Homo sapiens: one gene and its partner. The protein of the gene in region 1 interacts with the protein of each later gene in a pairwise test. Each region holds a gene or a part of one and is shown on either strand. Other genes may lie near its edges.

Region 1 (3,746 bases):
CGTCTCAAAAAAAAAAAAAAAAAAAAAAAACAACACCAAAAAAAAAGTACAGAAAAGGATACCTTTCAGTATTTCATACATCACTAAATGTGCAAAACCCCCTAAGAACAGTTTAATTAAAAATTTGAGTCTGACCCTGGGCCCACTGCCTATGAATTAGCCCTGCTCCGCAAGGAGCAGTACTGTTTTAAAAAAAATTTTTTTTGGACAGGCTGATTTTACATTTGTAATATTTCTAAATCTTAAATTAAAAAATATATATTAACATTTATATTTTAAAAGATGCTTTCAAAAATATAAAAAAATTAACTCATTACCTATTTTGTTTAAGGGCTCCTGGAAAAACTGAGGGAATGATCAATATGCACACCAAAACAAATATATACAAACTTCTAAATTTCATTTTATAGGAATAGTATCTATTGAAAGGGCAGGGTGCATGAATAACTCAGTGACAGGCGTAAACTCAGCCAGGATTAGAAACGTCTTCCCAATGGAGGCCCCGCTCAAGTTGAGAATTTCATGGACACAGTAAATCATCCAAAAGCCCACCTTCAATAACCAAAGTAGGCATAAAAATAGGCCGATGGTTACTTTGGAGATAATATAATCCTCGGTCTTATTGTTGTGGAGCAGATGTCATTATGGGTGGGGCTGAAGCGCAGAGCAGCTGAAACATTTTTATACCACCACCCGCACACTTTCAATGGGATAGAAGGGACTCCAAAAGGTAAGAGCTCCCAATCGTCAGTTGCTACTAGAAATAACTAAGTTTTGATGTGGCCGTGGCACGCGTAAAGGCCACAAAGAGATTTATAAAATTCTCCATGATTAATTCCTATCCTGGAAAAGAGGCAATCTCCTTTTCCCCTCCCTAGCCGGCTCCTCCTTGGGACACTTGGCTGAGTCGTTCTTTCCCTCCTTCTCACGCTGAGGTGAGGCCGCACGCAAGCCGGAGACGCCCGTTTTCCTCTTCGCGCGGAGGAAACTCTACGGGTAAGAAGCCGGGGTGGCGGGAAAGGAGCACGCGGCACCGCGGGGAGGCAGAGAAGGCTTGCCAGGGACTAGCCGGGCTCGGGGAGAGCAGGGACACGCGGGCCGTCGGACCGAGGAGGCCGAGGTGACGAGGAAAATCTCCCGGCGCGGAGCCGGGACTGGGCGCTTCCGGCGGGCTACGGTTGCTCTTGGCCTAGCACAGCCTGCGTCCCGGGCCCCAACCGGGCCAGGTAGGGAGTTAGGAGAGAGGGTAAACCGCGGCTCGCACTTGCCTGAGACCGGGTGACCAGTAACTGGTAATAGTCTTTGCTAGGCGGCGGGCCTTGTCCTACAGTTTCAAAGAGAGTCTCCGGCAGCCACGACGCCATCTTGGGACGCCACCGCCGTCGCTAAGACAACCAGGAAGGGGCGGGGCTTGGTTGGGGTCAAGGGGCCAAAACCCTAGTTTAAATTGAACCACGCTTATGAGCTGGCAGAAGGATTTCTAACTTGGGGCGATCGTCCCCTCTTCCAAGGGTCTTAGGGAACCCTGATCCGTGAAATTTCCAGCTCCAGGTCCCGGGTGACCCGAGGGGGAATTAGTTCCTGCTACCACGGAGGGGAGGGGGTGACCCCGGCGGAGGGATACCAAGTAGATCTCCACAGTCCCCTTCCTGGTCCCTCGAAGGGATCGGGCGGAGATCGGAGGCTGCTGAGAGAGTCGAGCCGGGAGGCGTGGGAGGGAGGGGCGATGTGATGGGCCGCCAGTAGGCAGCGGTGCCGGTCCCGCGGACGAGCCCGTAACCGGAGCCCGAGGACAAAGTAGTTCCCCGAGGGTGTCAGAGCAGGCGGGGAGGGAGGCGGCACGGGCGGAGGCGCACGCCGGGCGCGGTGCTGCGGCTCAGCTGATAATTGAAGGAACCCGGAGCCGCCGCCGCCGCGCCGCTGGGGGGGGTGGGGGGAGCTAGTGGAAGTTACTGCCGCGCCACCGAGTCCGGACCGGAGACTTTGGGGCCTAACTAGGTAATTGGGGCGCAGCTCTGGGCGGCGGGGGCAAGCCTTGGGGGAGGGGGCCAGCTGAGGGGTTGGGGGGGCGGGGGGAGGAGCTGGAACAGAAAGTCCCAGGAAGCCCGGTTGTGTCATCGCCGCGATTCGGCCCCCGCTTGGCCTGCTCCCGGCGCCGGCGGCGGCGGGGCCGCGGAAGGACCGGGCCGGGGGTGGACGGGAGAGACGCTCGAGGGCGGCCGCGGCCGGAGGGACCGGGGCCTGGCGGGAGGTAGGGGTCGCTGGGTCCCTCCTCCGGCTTCCCGCAATGAGGAGGGCCCTTCACAGAACCGGGGTAAGGCTTGCGGGTGTTGGGGAGCTCGGCGGGGACCAAGGGGGGCCGGAAGTGGGCTTTGGAGCTTGGAGGGTGTCTGGGAAGAGAGAAAGTGGGGGGCCGGAAGTGCAGGTGGGGGGTGTGAAGACGGCAAGGGTTCCCCGGAAATGGGACGAGGGGCCCGGAAATCGGGAAAGGGGAGGCTCCGGGGCCGTGGACGGCCCGGAAATGGAAACTAGGAAGCAGCTCCAGTGACAACAGTTGTGGGAAGCGAGGGTCAGAGAAGGGAGAGGCCAGAGAGACTTTAGACCGCAGTAAGGGGTTTCCTGCCCAGGGGGACGGCGAGGGACGGTTGAGGGAGGGCGAGCCCGGAGACGGGGTCTGCGCGGGGCAGTTTTTTAAGCCGTGGGAAGTTGAGGCTGAGGGAGGATGATGACGAGGGGGGCATGCAGGGAGGCCTAAAGAAGCCGAGAAACTTGACTGAGAGGAATAGAGTATCCTTTTAAATAGATCAGAATGGAAATTGGTGGTAGGTGGGTTTAACTAGGACTTGGGGGAGGGAGGTGGGCCAATTGTCACCCCAATCGTATTAGCATTCAGAGCGAGTCAGGCGATTAATTTATTTATATGTGGATTACATAAAACCTATTATTTACAACGTTTGTCCATCAGTTCAGCCCCTCTCCTTCCTTCTCCATAGTGAGTGGGTTTCTAGTACAGGAACAAGTTAGAGGGGAGTTCGAATAACGAAGGTAGTAAAACCTCAAATCCTGTCTTCCTCGGCGTCTCTCCCTTCCTCAGAATAAGAAATCCTTCATTTCCTAGACGGAAAAATGCGGAAAAACATAAAAACACATGTAAATCGGGGGGAAATCACACTTTGAACTCCTGGTGGGGGACAGGAGGGAATTGGTTACCTTACGTGGTGAGGAGATAACGGAAGGGGCAGCTTCCAAACCCTTAAGACAAATGTTGTGTTTTTTTGATAATGCTGTTTTACTTTGGGGGAGGTTTAGCCTAAGCATCGAGTCTGGTGGTGGGCATAGTTTAATTGCTTCTTTAGTTAATTGGGGGAGGGAATGTGTTTGTGTGTAAAGGTTGGGCCGGTGCGGGGGGAGGCGGGTACGGTTAATAGCGCAGTGAATCCGTTCTAAGTGGACGTCTAACTGCTCTCCTGCTGTCTCCTTTCCTAGTCGCGGTCCTCGATCTTGCCTGGGCTGCCAGATCACCCGATCTCCGGGCTTTACTCCGTTTTGTAGGCCCTTTAGTGATGTGTTTAACTTTATGTTCCTCTCGAGAGTCTCATTAGGTATTTTTGGCATTTCATTTTTTAAAGACCTAGCAAGTTGAGTCTCAGAGTCTCCTCTTTAAAAACAAAACAAAAAATACGGGGTAGAAAGTTGAAAGAGCTATTGAGTGGGGTAAAACGACGCTCAGAACAAAGGTCCTAGTT
Region 2 (3,746 bases), on another chromosome or scaffold:
GCTGCAGGGGGACATTCATGCTCCTGACACGCCTGTTATACTTTACTAGTTAATGTTTCCACTTTCTGAAGTGCTCCTTCATATCTTTTTTTTGTCTTCAAATCTCCTACACTGTTCCCCTGAATCCTGGCTAATGGGTAGCCTCTATCTCCCTGAGAATACAGAAGCCAGACAAGAGTTCTCTTCTTTCCTCACACCAGTTTAGAAGTGCATCTGAATTTGCATCTGGCTTCTGATTCCTTTCTACTACAAGAAAGAAAGCCTCCCTCTCCTAACAAATAATATTTCTTCCTTGGGTTTTGGATGAGCTCACTTTAAGGAGTTCTGGATTAGCTCACTTCAAGGATGAGCTCACTTCACCTCTCCCTTCCCTCTCCCTTCCCTTCAACATCCACTCATGCCTCTGCATCATCAGCCCCTCCGTCTCCACTGCATCCTTCCTTCTTTTTTTCCCCCCTTTAAAGGAGAGGGGCAATATAACTTACGTAAAATAACATATGTAAAAATAACAATCCAGAAATTTTTTGGTGTTTGTTTCTCAATACCCACCCTCAAATGTAACCACTTTTCTGATTTCTATTAGAAAATAGATTAATTTTCCCTGATTTTGGACTTCCTATAACTGGAATAATATGGTATATATTTTTTGGTATCTGGCTTCTTTTGTTCAATACAACATATTTGTGATTAATCCATGCTGTTGTGTAGGTCAATCATCTTTATTGCTGAGTAGTATTCCATTGCAAGGTCATACCATAATTTGCTTATCCATTCTTCTGTTGGTGGAAATTGCAGGTGTTACCAGATTTGAGCTCCTATAAACAAGGCTGCTCTGGACATTCTTGTACAGGTCTTTTGGTGGAAATATACTTTCCTTTTCATTTGGAACTTCTGGTCATAGAATAGGTGTATATTTAACTTTATTAGGAGCTAACAGACAGCTCTTCAAAGTGGCTATACCATTTTGCATTCTCATAAAAGCAGTGTATGAGGGTTCTGGTTGCTTAACTTCCTCCACAAATATAGGATAATCAGTCATTTTGATTTTAGTGATTCTAATGGGTGTGAAAAGTGCTTTGGGGTCATAAGATTAGCCCCCATTAGAAGTTATCTATTATTATTATCACCAGATCACGACTCAAACATTTTTAATAAAGGGCACCTGAGTTCCTTCTTTATTGTAATCATGCCTCAATCTTCTTCTTGTCCTAACCCCTCCAAAAACCACATCATAACCCCCAATATTGGCCATACATCTATTTAAGTATTATGTGTAAATATATGTTGGTAAATATGTTAAAGTATTGGCTTTATAAAGAGGACCCAGTAGAGACATCATCAATGCCCCCCACAATACCCAGCGAGTGCTTGGAAAATGGCTAGGTTCGTATTTTTCTGCAGCTCCCTAGAATATAACAGTCTACCCTACTTTGTTCTGGGCTCTGTCCCCACATCTTAGGAGTTGCATTCTCTTTCGGGCTGCACAGCCCTATGGGACGTCAAACCTTGCCTTTCTTGACAACTGATGGGAGGTCCCTACCATCAGCACCTTCTCCAGTCTATCAACCTGGGTTGGACGTCCCTACCTAGACACAGCTTCTCTTGGGGACGCTGTGGAGGAAATCGGGGTCTCGGGTGTGGCTATATACTCAGGGACAGAAGCTAGACGCGCTCCGCAGCCTGAGGTGGGCCAGGCACCTGCTGGGCTCGGGGTGGCAGAGACAGCTGTGCGGTCCCAGCTGTTCCTGAGCGCACCGCTGAGGGACGCACTCCCTTCTACAACGGCTGCACCCCAAGTCCTCCTCCCATTCCTATATTTTTCTCCATCCCCTGCCCACGCTTAATTAGTTATCTCCTCCAGACCCCTCCCCACTGGCCTCCTCCCTTGCACACGCGAGCTGGGCAGGGAAGAGAGCGCCCGGCTCAGTACTGCGCGCGCCCTGCGGCTGTCCGGGGCCGCGCGGTGGCCAAAGCACAGCGCGGGAGAGTCTGCGATGTCAGAGAACGGCTCCTTCGCCAACTGCTGCGAGGCGGGCGGGTGGGCAGTGCGCCCGGGCTGGTCGGGGGCTGGCAGCGCGCGGCCCTCCAGGACCCCTCGACCTCCCTGGGTGGCTCCAGCGCTGTCCGCGGTGCTCATCGTCACCACCGCCGTGGACGTCGTGGGCAACCTCCTGGTGATCCTCTCCGTGCTCAGGAACCGCAAGCTCCGGAACGCAGGTGAGCACCATTCCTGATGCTGGGTGCTGGCATCGGGCCCTTCCTTGTCTTCTGATCTTGTCCCTGACCCCGGGATATGCGCTGCCTTTTCCCTCCTCAGCCCGGGCTCCCCTTTCCCTTCACTCTAACCTATTCCTTAAGTTTGACTCTGCACTCAAAAGTTAGGGTGAGTTTTGCCCCTCCGAAGTGCGGCTGCCCAGGACGCGCTTGGCACAGAGGGAATTGCGGAAAGTTTTACTGGCGCGCTTTTTGGCCGGGCGCCGGCGCTGTGGGAACCCACGCTGCTGGATGCCATCGCTACCCCGTCGCGCTCCAATGCGTGTCTTTCCAGAGGTGCCCACATCAGGCCACAGAAATCTCACCACCTGTACTTGACATCCCACTTCCTTCCTTGCCAAGCACTGTAGCTTTATGTAGTAGTCGCTTAGAAAATCCTTGCTGAAAAAATGAGTTAATCAATGGAAGCATTTCAGTAGGTTTTGTGTCAAAAACTTATCTCCAGGTCATCTGAAGACCCAATTCCAGTTGACGGAGAGTAAATGCAGAAATTGCAGATTCTGCTTGGACTGAACTAAATTGCTTTGAAATATTGTGGTCTTTTCCGAAGACTGGGAATTCCTGGGATTAACTGTGAAAATTAAAGCAATGATTTGGCTAAATCGTGTTGTAATCCTGAAAATATTTTTCCTATTTCAATCCACTCTCATTTCAATATTCCCCTAGTCAGGTCTTCAAAGAAACAAAACCAGAGTGGGGGGCAGTATCTGAACTCTAGCCCTCACAGGTCATGGGGCATGATGACCACTTCAGCTTAGGAAGGAGCTCAGTCACCTGTTTGTTAATTTTGCAGTTTCTTCAAGTTGGGCCTTGGGAGCAAATTCAAATATTAGAGTGAATTAAAATGGAAAGATAGCAGCAGTAAAACAACCATATAGCTTAAAAATGCTTTTCTAAGGAGTCAGACCATTTTTAGCAAATAGTAATATGTATTTGGTGTGGCCTGTGACTCTAGAAATTTTTTTTTTTTGAGATGGAGTCTCTCACTCTGTCACCCAGGCTGGAGTGCAGTGGCATGGTCTAGGCTCACTGCAACCTCTGCCTCCCAGGTTCAAGGGATTCTCTTGCCTCAGCCTCCCGAGTAGCTGGGATTACAGGCGCTCGCCACTACACCCAGGTAATTTTTTATATTTTTGGTAGACACAGTATTTCACCATGTTGGCCAGGCTGGTCTCGAACTCCTGACCTCAAGTGATCCACCCGCCTCGGCCTCCCAAAGTGCTGGAATTACAGGCATGAGCCACTGCGCCCGGCCAACTCTAGGATTTTTAGCTAAAAAAACAAACAAGAAACTCCTCCAACTGTGAGTATCCAGCCATCATATGGGAAACATAACATTATTAAGAAGAAGTAAACTTTCTAACTCACTTCAGTAGTGGTGGCTGTTTTCTGGAATACATTGTTCAAAATATTGTGTCCTTTGAAGAAAAGCTTATATATTAGGGAAAAACAGGTTATGATTAGAAAACTGC

What was found.
Region 2: the proteins of TRIP12 (region 1) and MTNR1B interact in binary tests that used the Homo sapiens proteins (3 or more experiments, as listed by UniProt).

The regions. Positions count from the first base shown.
Region 1 is NC_000002.12:229,920,132-229,923,877, reverse strand, and holds the start of TRIP12 (E3 ubiquitin-protein ligase TRIP12), read left to right. Parts: upstream 1-1,868; 5' UTR 1,869-1,998; intron 1,999-2,088; exon of another isoform or gene 2,089-2,607; intron 2,608-3,746. Other genes in the region: FBXO36 (F-box only protein 36), read right to left, coding at 1,269-1,364. UniProt on the Homo sapiens protein: E3 ubiquitin-protein ligase involved in ubiquitin fusion degradation (UFD) pathway and regulation of DNA repair.
Region 2 is NC_000011.10:92,967,732-92,971,477, forward strand, and holds the start of MTNR1B (melatonin receptor type 1B), read left to right. Parts: upstream 1-1,919; 5' UTR 1,920-1,994; coding exon 1,995-2,217; intron 2,218-3,746.